Linked DNA regions of Homo sapiens. The protein of the gene in region 1 interacts with the protein of each later gene in a pairwise test. Each region holds a gene or a part of one and is shown on either strand. Other genes may lie near its edges.

Region 1 (3,338 bases):
GAAAGTATAAGAGTAGAGGCTTTGATGAGGACCAAAGCCTTTTTTGGAAGGTTTTTTTTTTTTTTTTTTTTGAGCCGCCCAGGCTGGAATGCAGTGGCGCGATCTCGACTTACTGCAACCACTGTCTCCCGGGTTCAAGCGACTCTCCCATCTCAGCCTCCTGAGTAGCTGGGATTATAGACACCCACCATCATGCCCGGCTAATTTTTGTATTTTAGTAGAGATGGGGTTTCACCATGCTGGCCAGGCTGGTCTTGAACTCCTGACCTCAGGTGATCCGCCCGCCTCAGCCTCCCAAAGTGCTGGGATTACAGGTGTGAGCCACCGTGCCTGACCTTTTTGGAAGGTTTGTAAGGAACAGGGGTGGGGTTGAGAGGAGGCCACCAGCCAGTCTCATTAGATAGGTATCTCAGGCAGCCGCATCAGCGTGCGGGATTGCTTTTGAAACTGGACTAAGAGGTTTGAGTCAGACTCAAGGAAGTCTTTGGAGCAGCACTGTGCCCCTGAGGGTGCGTTAGGGAGAGGAGAAATAAGGAAAGGGGATTGAGTTTGGAGATTTCTTAGGTGTCGGAGTGAGTTCTTTCAATGTAAGAGAAGACCTGAACAGGGCAGGAGAAAGTCAACATCCTGGAGCCAGGTGAAGATTGGGAGAAAGTTTGATGGGGGTCGGGGTGGGGATGGTTGGTCCAGCTCACTGACCTCTACCTTGTCGCTTGGCAGGGTGGTGAAGGAAGAAATTTCAGATGACAACGCCCGCCTCCCCTGCTTCAACGGAAGGGTGGTATCCTGGGTAAGAGGTTCTGACACCGAGGACCAGGCCCCCTCAGCATTGCCAAGCTCCCTCAAGCCTCAGTCTGTTTCTGTATCCTCCCCAGGCCGCGCGTTAGCAGCCCTGGCTCTTTACCTCCTGTCTGTTTGGAGAGCCGGCGAGAGGCCCTCAGCCTTCTCCTTCTGGAGTCTCTAATACTTGCTAGGTTTTTTTGCTCTTCTCCAGCTCTCTGAGACCCTTTCTCATTCTTTCACTTACTGCCACCTGTCACACCCTGACTCCCAAGTGAGCCACTGTTTATCATTTGCACCCTTCTAGCTGGTGTCCTCAGATAATCCCCAACCCGAGATGGCCCCTCCAGTCCATGAGCCTCGGGCAGAACTGGCGCCTCCAGCCCCACCTTTACCTCCTTTGCCACCCGAGAGGACCAGCGGCATTGGGGACTCAAGGCCTCCATCCTTCCAGTGAGTCCTTCAGATTCTTGACTGCAGGGGAGGGAGGTGAGGAGGGAACCCAGGCCTTTGGTAGGGGACGCCTAGGATCCGGAGCCCTGTTCTCCTGATGTGGGTTGGAAACCATCTCTGCCTGTCCAGCCCTAATGTGTCCAGCAGCCATGAGAATCTGGAGCCTGAGACAGAAACCGAGTCAGTAGTGTCACTGAGGCGGGAGCGGCCTCGCAGGAGAGACAGCAGTGAGCATGGCGGTGAGGGGCAGGCCTGGGGGCCGGGAAGGGCTGGGCCAGACCCCAGCCTTGGTGGGGTGAGCAGGGGGAAGCTTGGTTCTTGAGCTTCCTGTCCATATGTAGCTGGGGGCCACAGGACTGGTGGCCCCTCAAGGCTGGAGCGCCACCTGGCCGGATACGAGAGCTCCTCTACCCTCATGACCAGCGAGCTGGAGAGTACCAGCCTGGGGGACTCGGACGAGGAGGACACCATGAGCAGGTGTGGCTCCGCACAGCTCTCCCCAGCGCACCCAGCCCCGTCTCGTCTTCCAGTCAATCCTCTTGTTCTTTCTCTTGGCCCCATGACCACTTTGGCCTACGTTTGCTCTCCTTCCCAACCTCCTGGTAGGTTCAGCAGCTCCACGGAGCAGAGCAGTGCCTCCCGCCTCCTTAAGCGCCACCGGCGGCGAAGGAAGCAGAGGCCACCCCGCCTGGAGAGGGTGAGGGGTTCCTACAGGAAGGCTGGTGCTGGGAGAAGGTGGGGCATGGGCTTTGGTTTGGGCGGTGCCAGGACACCGGCAGCACCCCAGGGTTGACCCTGGGTTATTGAAGGGCACTCTGGCTCCTTTTCCCACCACAGACGTCATCCTTCAGCAGCGTCACAGATTCCACAATGTCTCTCAATATCATCACAGTCACGCTAAACATGGGTATGGGGAGAGCCTGTGGCTAGGGCGTGGGGAGGGCCTGGTCTCTAGGGTTCCGGGCGTCCTGTGGCAGGGGCTCCTCTTTTCACATGGCCTCTCTCCACAGAGAAGTACAACTTCCTGGGTATCTCCATTGTTGGCCAGAGCAATGAGCGGGGAGACGGAGGCATCTACATTGGCTCCATCATGAAGGGTGGGGCTGTGGCGGCCGACGGGCGCATTGAGCCAGGGGACATGCTTTTGCAGGTGTGCTGGGGTAGGGCCACTGAGCTGCCCTGCACGGGGGCCCTCAGCCTCTCCCACCGTGTCTCTGACCCACTTGCCGTCGCTTCCAGGTGAATGACATGAACTTTGAGAACATGAGCAACGATGACGCTGTGCGGGTGCTGAGGGACATTGTGCACAAGCCTGGGTGAGTTGCCAAGCAGGTTGCCGGTCCTCAGTCCTCTTTTTTTTTCTCTTTCATGTTTTGTTTTGGAATTTTAATAAGTACTAAGACAGCCGGGCGTGGTGGCTCGAGCCTGTAAACCCAGCACTTTGGGAGGCCCAGATGGGTGGATCACCTGAGGTGAGGAGTTCGAGACCAGCCTGACCAATGTGGTGAAACCGTGTCTCTACTAAAAATAGAAAAATTAAGTGGGCATGGTGGCACATGCCTGTAGTCCCAGCTAGTGAGGTGGCTGAGACAGGAGAATCACTTGAACCCTGGGGGGTGGAGGTTGCAGTGAAACGAGATCACGCCACTGCACTCCAGCCTGGGCGACAGAGCAAGACTCCGTCTCAAAAAAAAAAAAAAGTGCTAAGACATAACGTTCAAAGTACATGAAACAAATGCATGACATAGCAAATAATACTAGAGTAAATATCCATGTCACTGCCATCTAGATCATCAAATAGGAGATTGCTGATACCCTAGAACTTCCTCCTCAGATGTCCCTTCCTGCTCCCAAATGCCTCACTGCCCCAGGGGTAGTCACTCTCCTGACTTCTTTGGCCATCACCATAACAAAGAAAAGCTTTGCCTCACTGGATAGTTACCACCCTTGCACGTATCCTTGAACACTGCAGTTTCGTTTTACCTGTTTTTGGACTTTCTGTGAATGGAACTGTACAGCGTGTACTCTCTTGTCTCACTTGGCAGTATGTTTTTAAGAGTTTTCCATGTTGATGAGTCATCCACATTGTGGTGCCTTCCACCCTC
Region 2 (3,248 bases), on another chromosome or scaffold:
GAACATTTTTATGATATGACCAAATTAAAGGAAATAAAAGTGAATGAGTTGAGAAAATATCATGAAAAGAGAAAAGAAGGAAAAGAAAAAGAAATACATGGACAGAAGCAAAATATGTTCATAGAGAAGTACATATAATGATCAAGAGAAACAGATACATGATGATATACTGAGAAATAGTATATAATTCACAAGTAACATAGACCGTGATCCATATTTTTCCTGTTATGCTCTTGGTCTTATAAAGCTCTTTTACACTTTTATAGAAAGTTAGCTATAGTTCTAGAGACTACTTCCACAGAATACTCATCTCTGTTCTAAAACTCATCTATTTAAAAGATTCATAGATGCAGTATCACTTAAGGTGTGAATTGTCCCTATAGTAAACCCAAGAATAACTTACCGTTAATTTTTTGGTTTGTTTGTTTTGTTTTGTTTTGTTTTTCCTGACACAGAGTCTTGCTCTGTCACCTAGGCTGGAGTGCAGTGGCGTGATCTCAGCTCACTGCAACCTCCACCTCCTGGGTTCAAGCAATTATCCTGCCTCAGCCTCCCGAGTAGCTGAGATTACATGTGCCTGCCACCATGCCCGGCTAATTTTTGTATTTTTAGTAGAGACGGGGTTTCACCATGTTGGCCAGGCTGGTCTCAAACTCCTGACTTCGTGATCCGCCCGCCTTGGCCTCCCAGAGTGCTGGGATTACAGACATGAGCCACGGAGCCTGGCCACAATTAATTTTTAATAAATTTCTACATATTCTGCCTTCAGTTTTGTTCTGGAAACATCTCCATCTGTCGTATATAAAATTGTAAATTTCCCTCACCCCATGAACAGCACTCCCTAACCCTCTTTCCTGCCCTAGCGTATTGTAGACAAAGGACAGCTTATAATAAAGAAGGGCGGTTCAATTCCAGCACAGTATAGAGTGGGATTTGTGAAGACTGGATCATAAATGGATCTTGGAAACCAGGCTTGGGAATTTAGACTTGAACAAAAAAAGAGAGAGAGAGATTCAAGGTTTTTGAGTAGGGTATGAAAGGATGGCAGTGTTTAATGACCATTAGTCTAGTAAGGATCTTTAGGATAACTAGGAAGAAGAAAAGTGCAGAGTCAAAACAGCAAGGAGGCAGTTAAAGTCTAGATAGGAAATGGTAAGGTTCGAGACTATGGCGATGGTAGCAGAAATATAAAGGAAGGGATTTATACAAGGGACACTTAGTGGACAGTGATGACAGAATTTAGAAGACTGATTAACCATGGAATATGAGGAAGAAATAGACAATAGGTGGATGGAAGTTTTCTCACACATACTTCACAGTCACTTATAGCTTTACTTTTCTCTCTTGTGTTCTCATCTGCTTTCTTTGAGGTAGTGCCTCCATTTTCCCTCTAGAAATGTATCATAGACCCAAGGTTCCCAAGATCTGCTGCAGTCAACATTGTAGAGTTCCTTCTCCGTACTCTATCTCCCCCTATCTCTTGAGTTCTTGCTGATGACAATCCTCCCAATCTTTTCTAATATATATGCTTCACGTCTGATTCCTCTCTCTGCCAACCACTGCAGGCATTACTTGCTCTTACCAATGTTTCTTTCATTCCTATCATCCTCTTTCATTCTATCATTCCTCTCATGTGAAAGGTCATATATTAAAGTGGGCATATCAATATGTAACTATCTTGAGCATGCTATAAAATTTTCTTTTCGTGCAGCAAACAGGTAATATTTCCCTTTCTTTTTTATTTTAGATAATGAGAGTGAAAACAGTAGATCCATGCCAAAGCTGGAAATTTTTGAAAAAATTGAATCACAGAGAATTATATCTGGAAGAATCTCAGGATACATATCAGAAGCATCTGGTGAGTCTCAAGACATCTGTAAGTCTGCAGGCAGGGTAAAGAGACAATGGGAAAAAGAATCAGGGGAGTCTCAGAGACTCTCGTCTGCCCAGGATGAAGGTTTTGGTAAAATCCTCACCCACAAAAATACAGTCAGAGGTGAAATAATAAGCCACGATGGATGTGAGAGGAGATTAAATCTGAACTCAAATGAATTCACACACCAGAAATCTTGTAAACATGGTACCTGTGACCAGAGCTTCAAATGGAACTCAGATTTTATTAACCATCAAATAATTTATGCTGGAGAAAAAAATCACCAATATGGAAAATCTTTCAAGAGCCCAAAACTTGCTAAACATGCAGCAGTTTTCAGTGGAGATAAAACTCATCAGTGTAATGAATGTGGGAAAGCTTTCAGGCACAGCTCAAAACTTGCTAGGCATCAGAGAATCCACACTGGAGAGAGATGCTATGAATGTAATGAATGTGGGAAAAGCTTTGCAGAGAGCTCAGATCTTACTAGACATCGGCGAATTCACACTGGGGAAAGACCCTTTGGTTGCAAAGAATGTGGGAGAGCATTCAACCTGAACTCACATCTTATCAGGCATCAGAGAATTCACACCAGAGAGAAACCCTACGAGTGTAGTGAATGTGGGAAAACCTTCCGAGTGAGCTCACATCTTATTCGACACTTTAGAATTCACACTGGAGAAAAACCCTATGAATGCAGTGAGTGTGGAAGAGCCTTCAGTCAGAGCTCAAACCTTAGTCAACACCAGAGAATTCACATGAGGGAAAACCTATTAATGTAAGGAACTTAAATTTGTAAGTAAATGCTGAGGAAATGGCACAATATGAAAAATATTAAATAAAAAATAAATATTGGGCAAGATGGAAGACTGAAAGACCAGTTTCTGGTGTTCAATCTGTGTGTATGTGCTTTCTGTGAGACTGGGGATGTACCCCTTCTTTCATTGACTACTAAAGTCAAACCAAAAGAGCTACATTTAGGGGGGCTAATAGGGTAGTCTATGGCAGTGCAATGTAGAGAAATAGAGACTGTCTGGGGAAATAATCATGATTACAGTGTGGGAAGAAAAGGAAGATTTAGGTAAAGAGACTGATAATCAGTCCTAGTTTATTTTCCTAGTTAGTTTAGCACAAGAAGAGGTCAGCTAAACCCAGGAGTGAAATAGGTTGCACAGTGCACTGCAGAACAGTGTTTTCAGAGCATCCCTTTAAAAACTGAAGACCACAAAACTAAGATGCTCATGTTAAGTTAGAGAGTAATGTCAAATGAGGACATATGTAATGGTGGCATTCCTATATGAGGCCAAAATCTGTGTCCAGAGGTCATACCAGGAAGTAAAAAACCAGAAGAACACCCCAGGGAAGAGGCCAGAAT
Region 3 (3,328 bases), on another chromosome or scaffold:
GAGAAGCTGAGCTGGGAATCAATTTCCCTGGGGGCTGGCCCCAGCTGTCTCATTGACTTGCTGTGTGACTTTGCATGAGGAAAAATGATTCCTTTGTGCCTCAGTTTTCCCATCCATAATTAGGATGATTTTGCAGCTCTTCCACCTGCTGTATGTGCTGTGACCTCAAGCCAGGGAGGGGATGGGAGGGTGAAGGTAGCATTTTGCCCTGATGCCCACCTACCACTCCAGGCTTTTAACCAGACAATGCCATTCATTGACCTGCAACCCATATTATTGACCCAATCTTCCTCAAAGAAAGGCTTCAGCCATTTCCAAATCTGTTCACTTTGCCCTATGAATTGCTTGGGGTCCAGGCTGGCCCCTGGGGGTCAGGAGACCTGGTCCAGGCTCTGCTTTGCCAGTAAGTAGCTGTTCTTACCCCTCCCTGGGTCTCAGTTTCTTCCTTTGTTTAATAGGTGGTTTAAGCAAGGTCTGAGCATCCCTCAAGTCCTGCTGTGGACCACACAAAGGCAAGGAGCTGACCAGGAGGTGTCAGTTCCCTGAGAGACAGGGCCAAAGGCAGTGTACCCTTGAGGTGTGTGTGTGAGGGGCAAATGATGTCTCCTGTATTGGGATCTGCAGGGCATGGGAGTGGGCTCAGTCTCTGACCCAGCTCAGGGACAAATCCTCTTCCTGAGACCCCCGGGGGCTGATGGTGCTTGCGTGGGTGAGCAGCAGCTAAGCTGTGCTCTTCCACTCCATCCTGGAGGGCTGCCTCCTCAGGGCCCTGATGAAGTTATCTGGGCAGGGTGGGGCATGCTGATTTCATGAAATTACTGGGAGATACAATACATGGAGAAGGCTGGGAGAGCTGTCACTGGGCTCTCTCTCCAGAGATGCTCCCTGTACCAATGGCTGGGGGAAGAGGAACAGGACGAGAGAGGCAAAGGGCTGTGGGGAGCCTGGGACCGTGTTGGACTGGGGCAGTTCTTTACCCTCTCTGCACCCTTTCTGTAAGGGAAATTTATGCAGAGAGAGGCAAAGAAAATCCTGGAAGCCCTCACCATAAGAGAAGTGATGCCGAGAACTGGCAGCTGGGGGTGTGGGTTTTGGAGGCAGCCTGCTGGGGCTTGGATTCTGGCTCCTTGCTTACCAGCTGAGTGACCTTGGGCAAGTTGCCTAGCCTCTCTGTGCCTTGGTTTGCTCAACTATAAATTGAATATGATAATAGTAATCTATTTAATTGGGTGGTTGTAAAAATTAAATGAGTGCATCCACATACAGCCCTCGACACAGTGCTGTGAAGTTCTGTGGAGTAGAAAGTGCTATATAAATAGTAGCTGTGGTGGCGCTGGAGGAACCTCCTTGAGCTGTGGAGAGAAATTTCGACCAGTGTAATGCGGGGGCTGAGGTTCAAGCTCACCCACTAACTATGGGAATGGACTCCAATTAGGATTCCAATCTGGAGATCCTGACATTAGGGACCAGCCCCTGATCACAGGGTAGGTAAATCTTGCAGATCAGGCCAAAAAGGCCCCTAGAATTGTCGGGTCTTGGATCACTGCTGCCTCCTGAGGCAGGTTAGGGTAGGGTGGGTCTAGCTAGCAGGCTCATCTGTCGTCTGGCCTCGCTGACCACTCTTGTTTCCCCCACAGTCTCACTACCGGCCATTCTACGTCAACAAAGGCAACGGGATTGGGTCCAACGAAGCCCCATGAGCTCCTGGCGGAAGGAACGAGGCGCCACACCCCTGCTCTTCCTCCTGACCCTGCTGCTCTTGCCTTCTAAGCTACTGTGCTTGTCTGGGTGGGAGGGAGCCTGGTCCTGCACCTGCCCTCTGCAGCCCTCTGCCAGCCTCTTGGGGGCAGTTCCGGCCTCTCCGACTTCCCCACTGGCCACACTCCATTCAGACTCCTTTCCTGCCTTGTGACCTCAGATGGTCACCATCATTCCTGTGCTCAGAGGCCAACCCATCACAGGGGTGAGATAGGTTGGGGCCTGCCCTAACCCGCCAGCCTCCTCCTCTCGGGCTGGATCTGGGGGCTAGCAGTGAGTACCCGCATGGTATCAGCCTGCCTCTCCCGCCCACGCCCTGCTGTCTCCAGGCCTATAGACGTTTCTCTCCAAGGCCCTATCCCCCAATGTTGTCAGCAGATGCCTGGACAGCACAGCCACCCATCTCCCATTCACATGGCCCACCTCCTGCTTCCCAGAGGACTGGCCCTACGTGCTCTCTCTCGTCCTACCTATCAATGCCCAGCATGGCAGAACCTGCAGCCCTTGGCCACTGCAGATGGAAACCTCTCAGTGTCTTGACATCACCCTACCCAGGCGGTGGGTCTCCACCACAGCCACTTTGAGTCTGTGGTCCCTGGAGGGTGGCTTCTCCTGACTGGCAGGATGACCTTAGCCAAGATATTCCTCTGTTCCCTCTGCTGAGATAAAGAATTCCCTTAACATGATATAATCCACCCATGCAAATAGCTACTGGCCCAGCTACCATTTACCATTTGCCTACAGAATTTCATTCAGTCTACACTTTGGCATTCTCTCTGGCGATGGAGTGTGGCTGGGCTGACCGCAAAAGGTGCCTTACACACTGCCCCCACCCTCAGCCGTTGCCCCATCAGAGGCTGCCTCCTCCTTCTGATTACCCCCCATGTTGCATATCAGGGTGCTCAAGGATTGGAGAGGAGACAAAACCAGGAGCAGCACAGTGGGGACATCTCCCGTCTCAACAGCCCCAGGCCTATGGGGGCTCTGGAAGGATGGGCCAGCTTGCAGGGGTTGGGGAGGGAGACATCCAGCTTGGGCTTTCCCCTTTGGAATAAACCATTGGTCTGTCACTTCTCTTGTATTGAATGACCATTTCCCTGAGGGTCCCCAGAGGAACAGGCTGCAGTTCTTCTGAATGCACTTTTTCCCTCTGATGAAGGCACGGTCATCTTCCTGCTCTCCTCTCAGAAACGTGGCTCCTTTGAAACTCCCTTGACCTCCCTCACCCTGTCTGGGACACAGGGGGTGCAGTGCAGGAACCTGGGCCTCAGGGAGGCACGCCTTGGCTAACAATGAACACAGGGAGAATGACAGTGGGGTGTGGGCCTGGGGATATGCTCAATACCTTCTGCCATGCTCAGACCTTCTGGCCGGCCCACCCTAGAGTTCCCAGGGGGAGAAGGGCCCAGAAGTGGCTGGGAGCCAAGCACTCTGGTGCTCAGACGCAGGCTGGAGTGGAAGTCCACTGGAGGCTTCAGACCTGAGGGCCTTCTCAGTGCACAGAGGGCCTTCTGGGAAGGAGAGCTCCCCTTTGAGGCTGGCAGGAGGGTCAGGCTCCTGAAGACAGCAT
Region 4 (4,070 bases), on another chromosome or scaffold:
ACTAAAACTCCAAAATTAGCGGGGCGTGGTGGCACGTGCCTGTAATCCAGCTACTCGGGAGGCTGAGGCAGGAATCACTTGAACCCAGGATGCGGTGAGCTGAGATTGTGCCATTGTACTCCAGCCTGGGCAACAAGAGCGAAACTCCATCTCAAAAAACAAACCAACCAACCACCAGGTCCCGTCCCTCCTCCTCCCACAGCCTTCCAGGGCTCCTACCTCACTCAGAGCAAAATCCCAAGTCCTCCCCAAGACCCACAAGTCCTTGCTGGACTGGCCTGCTTCACCAGCTACAGAGTTAGCAGGGCCCAGTGCAAAAGAAAACTCAAAGGCCCCTTGTTCAAAAATGATTAGAAATCTCAAAATGCAGCAGTAAATATTAACCCAAGCACAAGCCCTGCTGTGGGGTGGGGGGGCCCTGGACAAAAGCACGAAGCCCCCGGCCCTGCCTCCCTCCGGCCTTCCTGACCTCCCCCCGGGCACTCTGCTGCCAGGCACAGTCCTGCCCCAGGGCCTTTGCACCTGTTGGTCCTGCCTCTGACTACCTCTGTACCCCATCCCCCTGTTCTCCCTCCTTCTTCAGGTCGCTTTAGGGGTGGAGGAAGCCGTCTCTGATCCTCCCTCCCACCTCTTTAACTTTGCACCTTCCTACCCTGCCATTCTCCCGGCTGGTTTTTCTGCAGAACTGTCCCCACCATCTGACCTGCCAGGAATTCAGCTTGTGAATTTGTCTCTGTCTGTCTCCAGGCACCACCACCAGGGCAGGGACCCACCCCCGCCCCGCCCCACCCCAGGGCCCTGGAGCAGCGGGGCCTGGCACACAGTAGGCGTTCTATAAATGTGTCACAAGAATGGCTTCCCTCAGGAAGGCGGCATTACCGCTGCCTTTCTGCAGAAAAGGAAACTAAGGCTCAGCAAGAACCACCGCCCAGCCAGAGCCAAGGTCACAGAGCACGTCCGTGGCACGCGTCCAGGTCGTGCCACAGCAGGGCCGGCGGCTTCGACGCGGGCAGCCGGGTCCCTTTTCTTTGACAGATGGGGAAACCGAGGCCCGGCCGGCTGCCGGGTAGGAGAGGGTGGCGGGGGCCGCTGCCCGGGGCGGGGGCGGGCCGGGCCCAAGGTCACCGCGGCGGGCGGGCCACGGGGAGGCGGGCCGGCGTGGGGATCCGCAGGCCTCCCCGGGCGCGCGCGTCCCCCCCCTCGGCGGCGCGCACGGGGCACGGGCGGCGGCAGGTGGAGCCGAAGCCTCCGCAGCAGCCGAGCCGCGGCCACTGCCGGCGTCGCCGCCATTAGACAATAGCGGTGGGGCCGGGGAGCGGGGAGGCGGGCGGCGGGGAGGGGCGGGGAGGGGCGCCGGGCGCGCAGGAAGCGGGGCCCGGGGCGCGCCGGGGCCGGGCGCGCGGGGAGGGGGCGCAGGAAGCGGGCGAGGCCGGGCGCGGGAGGCGGCGGCGGCCCCGGGAGCTGCCGATCGGCGCCGGGACAAAGGCGCGGCCGCCCGGCGCCCCCAGCAGCCCGAGCCGGGGCGCACAGCCGGGGCGCAGCCCGCGCCCCCCGCCGCGATTGACATGATGTTTCCACAAAGCAGGCATTCGGTAAGCGGGGCCCGTCCGGCCGGCGCCCCCACCCCGGATCCGGGCCCTACGCCCCCGACCCCCGGCTCCCGGCCCCGCGCCCCCCAACCCCCAGGCCCGGTGCCTCCGGCCCGGCGCCCCCCCCAACTCCCCGGCCCTGTCTTCCCTCTCCAGCTCCCAGCCCGGCGCGACCCCCCTCCCCTCCTGCCGCCGGCCCCCGGACACCCCCCCTCCAGTTCCCGATCCACCCCAGCTTCCGGGCCCCGAGCCCCCCCGCCGCAGCTCCCGGCTTGGCGCCCCCCCCCCCCAACCCGCCGGGACAGTCAGGGCCTCGGACGGCCTTGGCCTCGGGCCTGGGGCGCTCCGGAAGCCCCGCGAGGCACCTCTAGCCCGGGGATCCTTTGGGGGCCTGTGGTGGGGGGGGTGATCCGAGGCGCACCCCTCCCGGAAGAGCGTGTCCCCGAGGAAGGGCGCTGGGAATCTGGGGTTGGGCCCCCCCGGAAGATTTCGAGCACCGAGAGAGAGACCCCTCCCCCAAGAGGACTTTGCAGGGAGGAATCGCTGCCCCCCAACTTGGGGAGGGGGCTCCCTAGGGCGCGTTTCTACCCCCCTCGGATGTGCACTCCCTCCCGGCGCTTTGGAGGGCGGTAGAGGGCGCACCCTGCCCCCCATCTAGGGCGGGCCTTAAAACGCACCCCCACTGCCTGGGGGTGGCGGGGGACGGGGCGGCTCCGGGCGCACCCACCCGCTCGGCTTCCCCCGGGAGAGGCGGGGGGCAGGAAGCGCGGGTGGGGTCGCGCCAGGGGCCGTAAACACGGGCCCAGGAAGTGGGGCAGGAGGGGGGGCGCCGCAGCTGCGCGGCCGCTCCCTCCTAGCCGGCCCTTGAGGGGGGTCCAGCCCACGCCTGGGCCTGACCCGGGCCGCCCCATCCCTACAGGGCTCCTCGCACCTACCCCAGCAACTCAAATTCACCACCTCGGACTCCTGCGACCGCATCAAAGACGAATTTCAGCTACTGCAAGCTCAGTACCACAGGTGAGCTGGGGGACTGGGGGTCCCTGCGTCCCGAGAATGTGAGTCCCCCCATTTCTTCTGCGCAGATGGCAAGGCTGAGGCCTGGAGATTGGGAAAATAATATATGCTAGACTCTGACCTAATCACTTGACAAATACTGAATTCATTTATTTTAAACAGCCCCATTTTGTAGAGGAGAAAACCGAGGCACAAAAATAGTTAAATAATTTGCCCAAAGATTCAGCTGTGTGGCTTCAGAGCCCCTCCCTCCTCCCCAATACCCCCAAGTCCCCCATTGGATAAAAGACCTTCCAACAATTGGAGTTACGGCACGGACTCGCCATCCCTCAACCCCCAAAACAGAAACATTCTGCAGCCTGGTCATCTCTCTCTTTGCCCAGTTTTGGAGAAAGGGTTCCCAGCACCCGTCAGATTCTCCAAGGTGCTGCTTCTTTCAGAAATCTGGCGTTTCTGAAGAGCTTGCCACGCTGCGGTATCTAAGGGGAAGGAACTATTTAGTCCTCTTACACTTAAAGAAACTTAAGCCCAGGCCAGGCGTGGTGGCTCATGCCTGTAATCCCAGCACTTTGGGAGGCCGAGGAAGGTGGATCACTTGAGGTCAGGAGTTCGAGACCAGCCTGGCCAACATGGTGAAACCCCGTCTCTACCAAAAATACATAGTTAGCTGGGTGTGGTGGCGGGCGCCTGTAATCCCAGCTACTCGGGTGGCTGAGGCAGGAAACTTGCTTGAACCCGTGAGGCGGAGGTTGCAGTGAGCAGAGATGGAGCCACTGCTCTCCAGCCTGGGTAACAGGGAGACTCTGTCTCAAAAAAAAAAAAAAAAAAAAAAAAGAAAGAAAAAAAGAAACTTAAGCCCAGAGATGTTATGATGTTATTTCCTCGGGGGTGTCCATAGCATTGAGGAAGTGGCAAGGCTGAGGTTTGCACCAGGTCTCTCTCCTGGTTTAAGGATATAGGTTCTCGCCTGCCCTGCTCTGGAGGGGCACGCCGGGCCTGGGAATCTGGAGAAAGTCAGGCTATGCTCAAACCCCCGTTTGGCCTTGGGGCCCTCTCTAAACTGAAGCGTGCCCACCCCAGAAGTGTTCCTGGAAGGATCCTGGATTTCCTCCAAGTAGAAAGGGGAATCTCGATTTTGTTGTTGCTGCTGCAAATATCCCACCTTTTTGGGTACTCCCTGTGTGCTCAAGACCGTTCGTGCCTCCTCGTGCTTCATCCTTCCTGTCGTCCGACTGTCGTACCCATTCTCAAGCTGGGCAAACTGAGACACTGACAGTCGAAGGTGCTGGAGTCAGCTTTCCATGCAGGCCCCAGAAGCTTTTGTGCGGGTTCCTCGATATGAAGGGTTGGATACCGCCTGGTGAGCCCCGGGGCTGACCTGATTCCACAGGGAAGGGATCAGATGGCGGTCACAGTGCTGTGTGACCTCTGCTAAGCCGGAAGCCCTCTCTGAGCTTTGGGGTCTCC

The links.
Region 2: the proteins of DVL2 (region 1) and ZNF165 interact in binary tests that used the Homo sapiens proteins (3 or more experiments, as listed by UniProt).
Region 3: the proteins of DVL2 (region 1) and TRIM29 interact in binary tests that used the Homo sapiens proteins (3 or more experiments, as listed by UniProt).
Region 4: the proteins of DVL2 (region 1) and TLE5 interact in binary tests that used the Homo sapiens proteins (3 or more experiments, as listed by UniProt).

Annotation. Positions count from the first base shown.
Region 1 is NC_000017.11:7,228,180-7,231,517, reverse strand, and holds part of DVL2 (segment polarity protein dishevelled homolog DVL-2), read left to right. Parts: intron 1-323; exon of another isoform or gene 324-637; intron 638-720; coding exon 721-790; intron 791-1,087; coding exon 1,088-1,233; intron 1,234-1,362; coding exon 1,363-1,472; intron 1,473-1,574; coding exon 1,575-1,710; intron 1,711-1,839; coding exon 1,840-1,930; exon of another isoform or gene 1,931-1,968; intron 1,969-2,070; coding exon 2,071-2,140; intron 2,141-2,243; coding exon 2,244-2,383; intron 2,384-2,472; coding exon 2,473-2,549; intron 2,550-3,338.
Region 2 is NC_000006.12:28,086,816-28,090,063, forward strand, and holds the end of ZNF165 (zinc finger protein 165), read left to right. Parts: intron 1-1,747; coding exon 1,748-2,655; 3' UTR 2,656-2,748; downstream 2,749-3,248. UniProt on the Homo sapiens protein: May be involved in transcriptional regulation.
Region 3 is NC_000011.10:120,110,786-120,114,113, reverse strand, and holds the end of TRIM29 (tripartite motif-containing protein 29), read left to right. Parts: intron 1-1,637; coding exon 1,638-1,700; 3' UTR 1,701-2,828; downstream 2,829-3,328.
Region 4 is NC_000019.10:3,059,696-3,063,765, reverse strand, and holds the start of TLE5 (TLE family member 5), read left to right. Parts: upstream 1-1,270; 5' UTR 1,271-1,565; coding exon 1,566-1,592; intron 1,593-2,508; coding exon 2,509-2,606; intron 2,607-4,070. UniProt on the Homo sapiens protein: Transcriptional corepressor. Acts as a dominant repressor towards other family members. Inhibits NF-kappa-B-regulated gene expression. May be required for the initiation and maintenance of the differentiated state.